3 linked regions of the Homo sapiens genome follow. The protein of the gene in region 1 interacts with the protein of each later gene in a pairwise test. Each region holds a gene or a part of one and is shown on either strand. Other genes may lie near its edges.

Region 1 (3,817 bases):
AAATTCCACTGAAGGAGCCTCTGTGCCCTGCAGCCGGCAGCGCGGCTGAAGCATGTGTTGGCCAAGGAATGCCTGTCATCCAGGTGCCCTGCAGCCAGCAGCGCGGCTCAAGCATGTGTTGGCCAAGGAATGCCTGTCAGTCATCCAGGGCTCTGGGAGGGGACGAGAGTTATGTCCCCAAGAACAGGAAGTCCTTTACAAAGCATCCAGTCTCTTCCTGTCCTCCCCTTCCCTAGGCTGGGGTAGGGGTTAGAGACTGGTGGCCCAGGAGGTCACCTGCCTTGCCCTGGATTCCCTCTTCAGTGGCCAGCAGGACTTGGCAGGGCCACCAGCTCGCCAAGGTTCTGGGCGGGGCTCCAGCCTCTCCTGCCTGCTCCTTGGCTCTGCTGACCTTTCACAGGCCTGACAGCAGACTCAGCAGGGCCATCCCGGGATGCTGCACCTTCTGGCTGGCTCCCTACCAGCGCCTTTCCCTGTACCTGGCAGCTTCTCTCTTGGCCCCACAGTCACAGCACTCCACTTGGTCACAAAGACTTCAGAGCAATAAGAGGCGTCCTGAGCCTTCAGCACCTCCCAGGCCTGGGATATCGGGTTCAGAGGGTGCTGCAGAGCAGCATGAGGGTGGCTCCACCCATGAGGCTGGTGACACTGACGCTGGCTTGGCTAAGTTGGCTCAAGCCGGGTCTGGCCTGACAGGGTGCAGTCACACCAGGAGCGCATGGCAGATGCAGCCTCAGTGATGCCTCTCTTGCCGGGTAGGGGCTGGGAGTCCCCGTGCATCCTGTCTCTGGCCCATGAGGGGCTGCAGCACTGTGGGCGCCAGAGCACAGATTAAACTCTCAAACCCACACTGGCTCAGGTGTCCTTGCTCTCACCTTGCATTGGCCCGGGTGATGCCGTCTCACCACGGGTGGGAGGACTCAAAGTAGATGGGTAACTGGGGTTCCAACTCCAGAGCTGGAATGCCAACTGCCCACTCCCAGCCTGGTTCAGAGGAAGATGTTTTGAAGAATGAGGGAAAGCCAGGCACAAAGGGAAGCCAGGGAAGCAAAGGGCCCTGGAGTGAAGCTGGTGGGCTGCCGTGTCAGAGCGCCCAGGGCAGGGAGCAGAGCTCAGAAGTAATGCTGGCCCGGGCGCAGTGGCTCACACCCGTAATCCCAACGCTTTGGAAGGCTGAGGCAGGTGGATTACTTGAGATCAGGAGTTCAAGACCAGCCTGGCCAAAATGGTGAAAACCCATCTCTACTAAAAATACAAAAATTAGCGGGACTTGGTGGCATGTATCTGTAATCCCAGCTACTAGGGAGGCTGAGGCATGAGAATTGTGTGAACCCGGGAGGCAGAGGTTGCAGTGAGCTGAGATCACGCCACTGCACTCCAGCCTGGGGGACACAGCGAGACTCCGTCTCAAAAAAAAAAAAGTTGGGCTAGGCGGGCCCCCGAGGCTGGCCTGACTGTCCCAGGGGCACAGGCTCCAGCAGGCTGCCTGTCTGTGGTCCAGGCTTCAGGAACCCCCGGTCTTGGGTGTGCGGGGGCTGGGAAGTGGCTGGGGGTGCACAGTCCCACACCTGTCATTCACTGAACAGGCACGTATTGACAGCTTGTGGCGTGTCAGGCCCTGTGCCCAACTCTGGGAGTCAAGGATAACCTGACAGACTCAGGCCACTTTAGGAAAACGAAATCCACCCCAACCACACTTAGCGAGTCACCCTGGCCGGGCCTGGGCTGCCCTCCAGTCGGTCAGCCGGACTGGATTTCCACGCGGCCGAGCCCTACGCCTCCCAGACCCTGAGCTCCAGTCTGCACAGGCCAGGTGTCTGGAGCCGGGCCTGGTGACAGGCATCCCCCAGGTGGGAGGAGGGGCTGTCCTGGCTCTGACCTGGATATCAGATCCAGAGCTGAGGGGGAGGCGCAGGGTCAGGAGGGGAGGGGTTCTGTTCTGAGTTTCCCCTGGCCAAGGCTGCAGACAAGGGACGCAGACAATCGGCACATTGTGAGCAGGGGCTGCAGGATGGAACCAGCAAGCTGCTGTGCTGAGCGCCCCAAACCTGGGCCTACAGGGGTGAGTGCCTCCCGTTACTCCTGCAGCAAGGACCCAGGGGGTGCCCCAGGCCACCCAGCCCCTCCCTTCCCCAGCCCACTTGCTCCCTGATGTCTAACCCTCATGACCCTTCTGACCCTGATGCACGCCCAGGTGAAGACCAAGCCCTCCTGCGGGGGCTGGAGAGCCGTGAGCCTGCTCCTGCTGCTGCTGCTGCTGGTGCTGGCCGCTGTGGGGGTTGTGGCTGGAGGGCTTCTTGGCTCTGCTCAGGGCCCTCCCAAGGTGAGCCCCTCCTCAGCACCAGGGACATGGACAGTGGAAAGGGAGAAGGGAAGCTGGCATATCCCAGCCTCCAGCAGAGCAAGGGTGCGGAGCAGGCAGTGACACCACCTAGGAGCAGACAGCCAGAGGACCAAGGGGTGGAAGGGCCCACTCAGGGGTGTCAGGAGTCCTGCAGCCCAGAGCTGGAGGCTGTGCTGGGGTTGCACAGCTGCCCGGCTGAACTCCAACTCCCACTGCCAGCCAAGGCTGCAGACGCTGCGAATGACCCTCCCGAGCCCCCACATGCCCCGGCCCAACCAAACCATCCTGGTGGACGTGGCCCGGAACGCGGCGACCATCACAGTGACCCCACCTCAGAGCAACCACAGCTGGGCGGTGCTGTTCGACGGGCAGAGCGTGAGTGGGCAGGGAGGGGTCACCCTGGCAGGTGTCGGTCTGGGGGGCCCCGCCTCACCCCCCTGCCTCCCCAGGGCTGCATCTGTTACCGCCCTGAGGAGCACCAGGTCTGCTTCCTCCGCCTGATGGAGGACAGTGATCGGGAGACCCTGCGGCTGCTGGTGGATACCTCCAAGGTGAGCCGTCCTGCTGGGCGCAGGCCCGGGCCAGGGGCTAGACAAAGGGTCCTGTGTGCAGCCCAGTACGGGACAGGCTGGAGCTGTGGTTTCAGGGAACAGGAAGCTCTCTCCGCCCTAAGCCCAGGCTGCTGACAAGAGCTGAGGGTGGGGACATCACTGGGGGTTGGAGGGTACCCGGCCCTGCCAAGCCAGGAGCAGGGAGCAGCCCTGTCCCACCGCCCACCAGAGCCTTCTCAACAGGTCCAAGAGGCTTGGGTCCCCAGCCAGGACACCCACCACACCCAGGAGCTGCTGGCAGTGCAGGGGAGCCTCGAAGTGGACCCCGCCCAGGCGGGGGCTTTGGTGCAGCGCCTGTGCATGAGGACCCCCATCTACTGGGCCCGGCGAGCAGAGGGTGAGTCAGGACCGCTGTGGGGGAAGGCCAGGCCCTCGGGATGGTTTGAGGAGCTGGGGGCGGAGCCCTTGGAGATTCACGGCACCCTCGCCACAGGGCCCCGGAGACAGCGGCTGATTTATCTCTGCATCGACATCTGCTTCCCGAGCAACATCTGCGTGTCGGTCTGCTTTTATTACCTCCCAGACTGAGCCCCCGACCTGGCCCAGCCTGGCCCGTCCCCAATCCAGTGGGCTGGCCAGGCCACCTGCACCAGGGAGGACAGCTGCTGGCAGGGACTAATAAACCCTTCCACCTGGCCATGGTGGTGGTGTTCTCTATGGACCGAGGCCCTGAAACGCGGGCAGGGAGGGGCAGAGAACACACTAGCTTGGGGGTGGGCACCAGCCTCAGACCCCTCAGCAGCTTTGGGCCCTCGGCCGACTTTCCCAGGCAGTGCAGGCTAGCCCAGTCCAGGAGTGTGCAGCCTGGCTTGGGTCGAGCTCTGTCACATCTGGATAAGCAACTGGGGGCTGAGAGTCCCAG
Region 2 (3,600 bases), on another chromosome or scaffold:
TGGCAAGAGCCTGCTCAGGGTGAGATGCCCAGGAGTTCCCTGGAGAGGACATGGTGAAGTCGAGACAGCAGGGAGAACAGAAGGAAATGGGTGAGGGATGTTACTGGGACTCAGACAGGGACTGGGGAGGAACAGAGCCTGTAGTCCAGAGTTAAGATGTTTCTCTTGAAGATATCAGAGGGCTCAGTCCCAGTTGGGGGAAGGTATGAGTATGAGGCTGAAATGCAGCAGACATAGTCATCTGCCCCGGGAAGTCAAGAAGTTTTTATTCATTCATTCAACAAATATTTATTGGGCAGTTACTGTGCCAATCTCTGTGCAAGACACTACATGCAGGGGTGAACAAAACTTGGTTCCCGCCCCCCAAAGGCCTCCCCGCCTTGCCTCACTGGGGAGACACATTCACACCATGACAACACCCTGTGGTGACTGCAGTGTAGGAGAATGCCCAGGTGTGGTGGGAGCACGCAGAAGGGTCCCCACCCAGGAAAGGAGCAAGCGACGTCAAAGCTGAGCCTTTGGAATGGGAGTTACCCAAGCAAAGGGAGTGCAAGGGATCTCCAAGAAGAGGAGAGAGCTTTTTCCAAGGAGAGGCCAGCAAGAGTGTGCATTTGGTGAAACCAGAGGGTAACAGAGTGGGGAGAGGTGAGGGAGAGCTGCAGGGTCCCTGAAGGCAGGCACAGAGCTTCCAGAGGGATGGGAGGCTTGGAAGGGATTTTAGCAGGGGAGCAGCATGATCAGATTTGCATTTTAGCACTTGGGCTGCAGTATGGAAAATTGATTGAAACGGAGCAAGGGAGCAGACAGAGAGACTGGTGAAAGGCTGCAGGGCGGCAGGGGTGGCAAAAAGAGGGCACAGTCAGGAGATATTTAGGATTGAAAATCAGCAGGACTTGATGCTTTTCCTGGATGGGGGAAGGAGGGAGAAAAGGGTCAAGGATGCTTCCCAGATGCCACCAGCTGAGCTGCAGAAAACAAGAGGAGAACATGGGGGTTGGGGGGGGTACCAGGAGACAGGAGGATCACATCTGGAGACAGATTGCGTTTGAGGAGCCTGAGAACAACCAGGGGACATCTGTAGGCAGGTAGATATGCCAGGGATGAGGTCAGGACACCCAGCTACGGTGAAGAGGGGAAGACTGTTATTTCAATAGCTTGGCAGACTCTTCTTAGGGAGGAACACTTTTGTTTGAGAAGATACCTTGCTATCTGCTAGGGTTAAAAGGGGAAAGCCTAGGGCATGGGTGACCATAGGGCCAGGGAAAGCCTAGGGCATGGGTGACCATAGGGCCAGTGCAGCCACAAAAAATGGTTAAGCTGCCTTGTGTGAGAAAGGAGTGAAATCTGTTTGGCCCCTGAGAGGAGGAGAGCAGAGACGGAGGAGCCAAGAAGGGAGGGGAGCGCGGGGGAGGGCAGGGAGGCAGGAGGAAGTGAGTGAAGGGCCAGTGGAAATTTCCCCTGGTGGACAGCAGAGGTGCCCATGGCCTTGTGTGATCTGACGCGGTTTGAGTCGCTGTGGAATAAACCCCTTCTCCACCCGCCCCTCTGCAACCCCACAGGCCACAGTGTCCACAGCGTCCTTGGTAAAGTCGACTGTATTCACATCTGCATTCTGTGAGTGCGGGTATAGGTGGGAGTGGAGGAGGGAACTTACTTTCTGGGTTTACGGGCACGGTGTGGTGTCAGCCCATTTGGAAGCAAAGCCTAGATATGGAGGGGGCCAGACGAACAGGACCTGGGAATGCACAGGACCCCCTGAAGCAGGCCGGGGATCTGAGTGATCTTGCTGTATCTAAGCTGACATTGGAACATGAACAGTCTGAAATCCCATGAGCCCCGCTGCCCTGCACCTGCGACCCTCAGGCTAGACCTTGGACTGTCTACAACACGAGTCAGGCCCAACCCGCCCTGGAAATCATCGTAGGAGGTTCCAGCTCAGTGCCCAGAGACAGCCCCCACATCCCACCCCATCAGGTCAGCTCAGGCTGGAGCAGGCATATGAGCAACACCCCTCATTCCACCCCCATACACATGCATAAGCCCATCCGCCTGCGCCCTGCCAGTCTGACCAGCACAGTCCTGGGGACAGGAGCGTGGTGGAGGAGCTGCAGGTGGGGGCCAGAGAAGCCTCCACAGAGAGCAAAAGCCAGGGTCAGCCAGAGACAGGACACCAGAAGAGACAGGAGATCAGAGACCAGAGGAACAGAGAAGAGGCCCCAGAGCAAGGCAAGGAACGGCCAAGGCACCAGGACATGGATGCAGTGGAGCCAGGGGGACGTGGCTGGGCCAGCATGTTGGCGTGCAGGCTTTGGAAAGCCATCAGCAGGGCGCTGTTTGCAGAGTTCCTGGCCACGGGGCTGTATGTGTTCTTTGGCGTGGGCTCAGTCATGCGCTGGCCCACAGCACTTCCCTCCGTGCTACAGATTGCCATCACCTTCAACCTGGTCACCGCCATGGCTGTGCAGGTCACCTGGAAGGCCAGCGGGGCCCACGCCAACCCCGCCGTGACGCTGGCCTTCCTCGTAGGCTCCCACATCTCTCTGCCCCGTGCTGTGGCCTATGTGGCTGCCCAGCTGGTGGGGGCCACGGTGGGGGCTGCTCTGCTTTATGGGGTCATGCCGGGAGACATCCGAGAGACCCTTGGGATCAACGTGGTAGGTGCAGGGAGGGGCACCTGGAGGGCCAGGAGGCGGGAATGCGCACAAGTGGTGAAGGTGGAGGCCAGGACGGAGGCGAGGGAGCAAAGGAGGAAACAAGTCAGCTGCAGGCTCCACATCCTCCCGGGCTGGGCCCCAGGACCCAGAGGACTGAGACTTTGACCTCAGTCTAGGCAGAATAGAAATGGGATAGTGGCGCGAAGAACAGGTGGAGAAGGAAGAGGCCACATAAAGGAGAAGGAATAGAAGGACCAGGCGTTTAAGGGTAGATGCGGCCAAGGGAGTGCGGGGCCTGTGGGTAGAGAAGGGGACCCCACGGGGACTTCATTTTTCTCCCAGGCTCCACCCACGTCCTCTGCTCTCCGACTGTTCCCAAGTTCTTCCCTCCACCTCGAGGCCTGCCTCACTCGCCCCTTCTCCATTTCGTAACCATCTGTGTTCCACCTTCTTCCCCCAAATCTCCTCCTTCCACACCTGCTGCCAGTCTCCTCTCAAGCAAGCCTCCTGAACCACTGGCCCCAACCAACCCACTGGTGGGGTGGGAGGAGCACCACTCACTTCTGCAGGGAGCAAGGGTCCAGAGCAGATATGGACCCCTCTGCACAGGCCTCCCGAAGTCCTGAAGCTGGGCGGCAGTGAGGTGTCACCCCCCTCCAGCTGAGGAGACCAGGCCCAGTGGCAGGGGTTTCTCTGTCTGTCCGTGGGCAGAGCCCGCGTCTGGTCCAGAGTAACTCCCTCTGTCCAGGTCCGGAACAGTGTCTCAACTGGCCAGGCGGTGGCAGTGGAGCTGCTTCTGACCCTGCAGCTGGTGCTCTGTGTCTTCGCTTCCACCGACAGCCGTCAGACATCAGGCTCCCCGGCCACCATGATTGGGATCTCTGTGGCACTGGGCCACCTCATTGGGGTAAGGAACAGAGGGGACACCGTGCACATGCACACACCG
Region 3 (3,817 bases), on another chromosome or scaffold:
ATTCAAGCGATTCTCCCACCTCAGCCTCCCCAGTAGCTGGGACTATAGGCACCACCACCATGCCCAGCTAATTTTGGTATTTTTAGTAGAGACAGAGTTTTGCCATGTTGGCCAGGCTGGTCTCAAACTCCTGACCTCAGGTGATCCACCCACCTCGGCCTCCCAAAGTGCTGGGATTCCAGGTGTGAGCCACCGTGCCTGGTCGGCTGTCATATATTTTGAATACCACCTTGGAGATGACCATTATTTACTCCTTCACTGACTGTGGAGCCAGGCCACCTGGGTTTGATTCTTGACTTCACACTTATTATCACCTCTGTGTCCTTGGACATGTTGGTCATCCTTTCTGTGCCTCGGTTTCCTCATTTTTAAAGTGGGGATATAAAGCATAGCCAAATTATAGGGCTGTTACCAGGACTCATGAGCTATAATTTTTAATGCATTAAAAATAGTTTCTGGAATATAGTAAGCACTGGTAAATGTTTGCTAGAGAAAAGATAGACACAGAAATGAGGAAACTGAGGCTCAAAGAAGTTAAGTTAATAACTAAGACAGCTTTGACTTGAGCCAGGTGGTCTAACAGCAGATACAAGGCCCTTTTTACGGCACTGCTTTGCCTTCCTGGGGGCAAGTTTCTCCTCCACAAAGATTTGTAACAGAGACAATGGAAGGGCGAAACTGGGTTTAGCTTGCTCTTCTTTCTCACTATCCTAAAGCCGAACCCATTTCTAACTCTAGCTTCTATGTGCCATTCTGATGCAGATTTGCAACCGTCTGGTACTAAGACTGGGACCAGCGGAGACTTCCCAGAGCCTGGCTCAGGTGTGACAGTGACACGTCAATGAAGCTGCAACTGAGGCTAGCCCCCAGCTGCAGGAGGCTGGATGTCTTGGCCAGATGCAAAGGCCCCCAGGGCCTTCAGGCCTGGTCATGTACCAGTGATAGCTGCCCACATTGCTTCCAGGCCTGCCCAAAGTGAGGAAAAGGTGGATCAGAAGAAGAAGAAAATGAAAAATAAAACGGCAACAGCAAAACATCCATGGAAATCCACAGCAAGGCTGTCTCATAGAAATGTTTGTGATGGTGGAAACCTTCTCTATCTGTGCTGTGCGATACAGTGGCCACCAGCCACATGTGGCTATGAATAATTGAAATGTGGCCAGTGCCACTGAGGAACTGAATTTTACATTGTATTTAACTTCTAAGAAATTGAATTTAAGTAGCTACATGTGGCTAGTGGAGACTAGAATAGCCAGCACAGCTGTAGAGAGAGAATGGCACATAGAAGCTAGAGTCAGAAATGAGTTTGGCTGTTATGTCAGAGGGTGGAAGTGTTGAGGAAAGAAATTTAAAAGATGATATTTTAGTTAAAATTCAGTCCAAAGCAAAAGATGTGACGTGTGCCTCTCTGGTGATGGCTCTCTGCTCATCTGCCATGCTTCAGCATCCTGGGCCTCCTTCCTGTGGCCTGGCCCAGACTGTCCTACAGCCCCTGATGAGTACCAGCACAGAGAGTCCAGTTTTAAAGCCAGGGCTTTCATATGTCTTCATTACTAATGAATCTGCCTGTCTTGCTGTCTCTACCTTGTTCTCTTGCCAGCGGCTCTGGGACACATCTTACTCTCTTGTTCTCTCTATCTTTTTACAATCCTGTCTTTCTCTCAATGTCCGTCTCCTGGGCTCCCATACTCTTCTCCCGCCTGCCTTTGTTCTCCCTCTTTCCACCCCTTTTTTTCTGCCAAGCTTCTTCCTACACGCCCGTGGCTGCCTCTGTCCTCACCACGTCCACATGCCCTGATGCCTGCTGCCTCTGCCTGTCCTTCCCTGTCTTTGCTCCCTTCCCTACCCTCCTCTGTGCCTCTTCATCCCACCCCCACATTCTGGGTCTCCCGGTGGCATTGTCCCCTCTCTTCCCTGTCCATGCACAATTCTGCTCCTTTTCTCTGCCCTGTCCCTAACTCGGCTTCCCCCCACTGCCATCTCCTTTCCTGGCCCTACCCTCTTCTGCTCCTCTATCTGCAGATTTACGAGTATCGGAATGGCCACCAGGAGGTGGAGAGCCCCTTTCAGGGGCGCCTGCAGTGGAATGGCAGCAAGGACCTGCAGGACGTGTCCATCACTGTGCTCAACGTCACTCTGAACGACTCTGGCCTCTACACCTGCAATGTGTCCCGGGAGTTTGAGTTTGAGGCGCATCGGCCCTTTGTGAAGACGACGCGGCTGATCCCCCTAAGAGTCACCGAGGAGGGTGAGGCTGAGGCACAGGGTCTCTAGGGCGTCCTGCTCTCTGTGGACAGGGAAGGGTAGGACAGCAGTTTTCCACGAGTGAGGCCCTTAAAGAGTGCAAAAACCCATGTATTTGGAATGGTGACATCTAAAAATGTCACCATTGACCCATCTTCTTCTGGTGGCCAGCTTCCTGTAAATTCCCTAAGCAGCTTGTCTTTCTGTGCCTTTCCTCAAAGCAGAAAGGCTTGGAGATGATAGAATGAGCTCTTCCTGGTCCCTTAGAGAAAGAGGCTAGCCTCCATGAGGCCTAAAGCTACTGATTCAGCTAGGCCTTCTTCTTTGGCCTATGTTGAATCCCTGACTCAGTGGGCTCAGAGAAATCTCATGAGGTTACCCGGAAGTCATCTCTCCTTCTACCTGTAAGCAATACATGCCTCTAAGCCAGGGGTTCTCAAACTTTAGCAAACCTCAAAATCTCCTGCAGGGCTTTTTGGAAGCCAGCCTTTCTGCTTTTGTCGGTGGAGCCTGAGAGTTTGCACTGCGTGACACACTGCCTGGCGGGCAGTGCTGCTGCTGGGACCACACCTTGAGAACCTCTCTCTAAACCAAAGTTTGACAATCTTTTTTTCTTTTGTCTTTCTTCACAGTAATCACACGTGCAACCTCTTCCCCATCTGTGGCATCTCTTATTACATAAATTCATTCCCTGCTGGGAGAAGGGGACAGGTTGATAGCTCTCTAGTCTTGTTTAAAATCTTTGGACTCCTACAGCTAGTTCCGTGTTCGTGAGTGGGAAGGCCTTTCAGCAGCCTAACTCAGGTGTTTCTGTTGCAACCGGAGTCCTGCATCCTGAGGGGGGAGTTCCAGCCTTTCTCAGTCTATCTCCAGCATTATCACTGCTAGTGAGCAGGCCAAAGTGTGGGGCATGAAGGAAAAGATCAAGTTAAAGACAGGGCTCTTCCTAGAAAAAAGGATCCAGGAATCCCAACCTCCAGGCCACAGGTTTATTCATTTTTTATCATGTCGTTGTGATAAAAATAATGAAGCGGAGATTCAGTCCTCAGAGTGAATGAACAAAGGAGAAAGAGACATAACGGATCAGACGATATGACTAAAATGGAAGGTAGGTCAATTCTGAAAGTGCAGAGGGACTCTCAGGGCTCCTGAATCCAGACCTGATGAGTCACTTCCCTGCTCGGAGCCCCGCTCCTCTGGTGTGAAATGAAGGGGTTGGCGGGGGGCTCTCTGAGGTACTCCCCTGTTCTGAAGTTCCTTTATCCCCCGTTTGTTACACGCCTTTCCTCTGGGGGGTGGGGCCCTGGCGCCCTCTCCTGGTCACCATCTGGAACTTTTGGTTGGTGCCCGCCAGACCTTAGCACAGTGCTCAGCCGTCTCCACCTCTGCTCTCTCGGGCTTTTGCCTCCAGACACCCTCGTGCATAGCTGGTGGGAAGTGTGGCAAGGCTGAGCTAGTTCGTCTGCCAGGTACCAGAGCAAGCCTCGGGTAAAAACAGAAGGAAAAACAAGTTTATTATCAGAGCCACAGAGCCTCGTGGATGGTCGGGTGTGAAGGAAGCGTGGATATCATT

The links.
Region 2: the proteins of BRICD5 (region 1) and AQP6 interact in binary tests that used the Homo sapiens proteins (3 or more experiments, as listed by UniProt).
Region 3: the proteins of BRICD5 (region 1) and SCN3B interact in binary tests that used the Homo sapiens proteins (3 or more experiments, as listed by UniProt).

Annotation. Positions count from the first base shown.
Region 1 is NC_000016.10:2,209,028-2,212,844, reverse strand, and holds BRICD5 (BRICHOS domain-containing protein 5), read left to right. Parts: upstream 1-1,981; 5' UTR 1,982-2,011; coding exon 2,012-2,062; exon of another isoform or gene 2,063-2,151; coding exon of another isoform or gene 2,152-2,194; coding exon 2,195-2,323; intron 2,324-2,563; coding exon 2,564-2,719; coding exon of another isoform or gene 2,720-2,793; coding exon 2,794-2,895; intron 2,896-3,138; coding exon 3,139-3,292; coding exon of another isoform or gene 3,293-3,388; coding exon 3,389-3,483; 3' UTR 3,484-3,592; downstream 3,593-3,817.
Region 2 is NC_000012.12:49,970,922-49,974,521, forward strand, and holds the start of AQP6 (aquaporin-6), read left to right. Parts: upstream 1-2,025; 5' UTR 2,026-2,252; coding exon 2,253-2,654; intron 2,655-3,402; coding exon 3,403-3,561; intron 3,562-3,600. UniProt on the Homo sapiens protein: Aquaporins form homotetrameric transmembrane channels, with each monomer independently mediating water transport across the plasma membrane along its osmotic gradient.
Region 3 is NC_000011.10:123,640,877-123,644,693, reverse strand, and holds part of SCN3B (sodium channel regulatory subunit beta-3 precursor), read left to right. Parts: intron 1-2,022; coding exon 2,023-2,248; intron 2,249-3,219; exon of another isoform or gene 3,220-3,727; intron 3,728-3,817. UniProt on the Homo sapiens protein: Regulatory subunit of multiple voltage-gated sodium (Nav) channels directly mediating the depolarization of excitable membranes.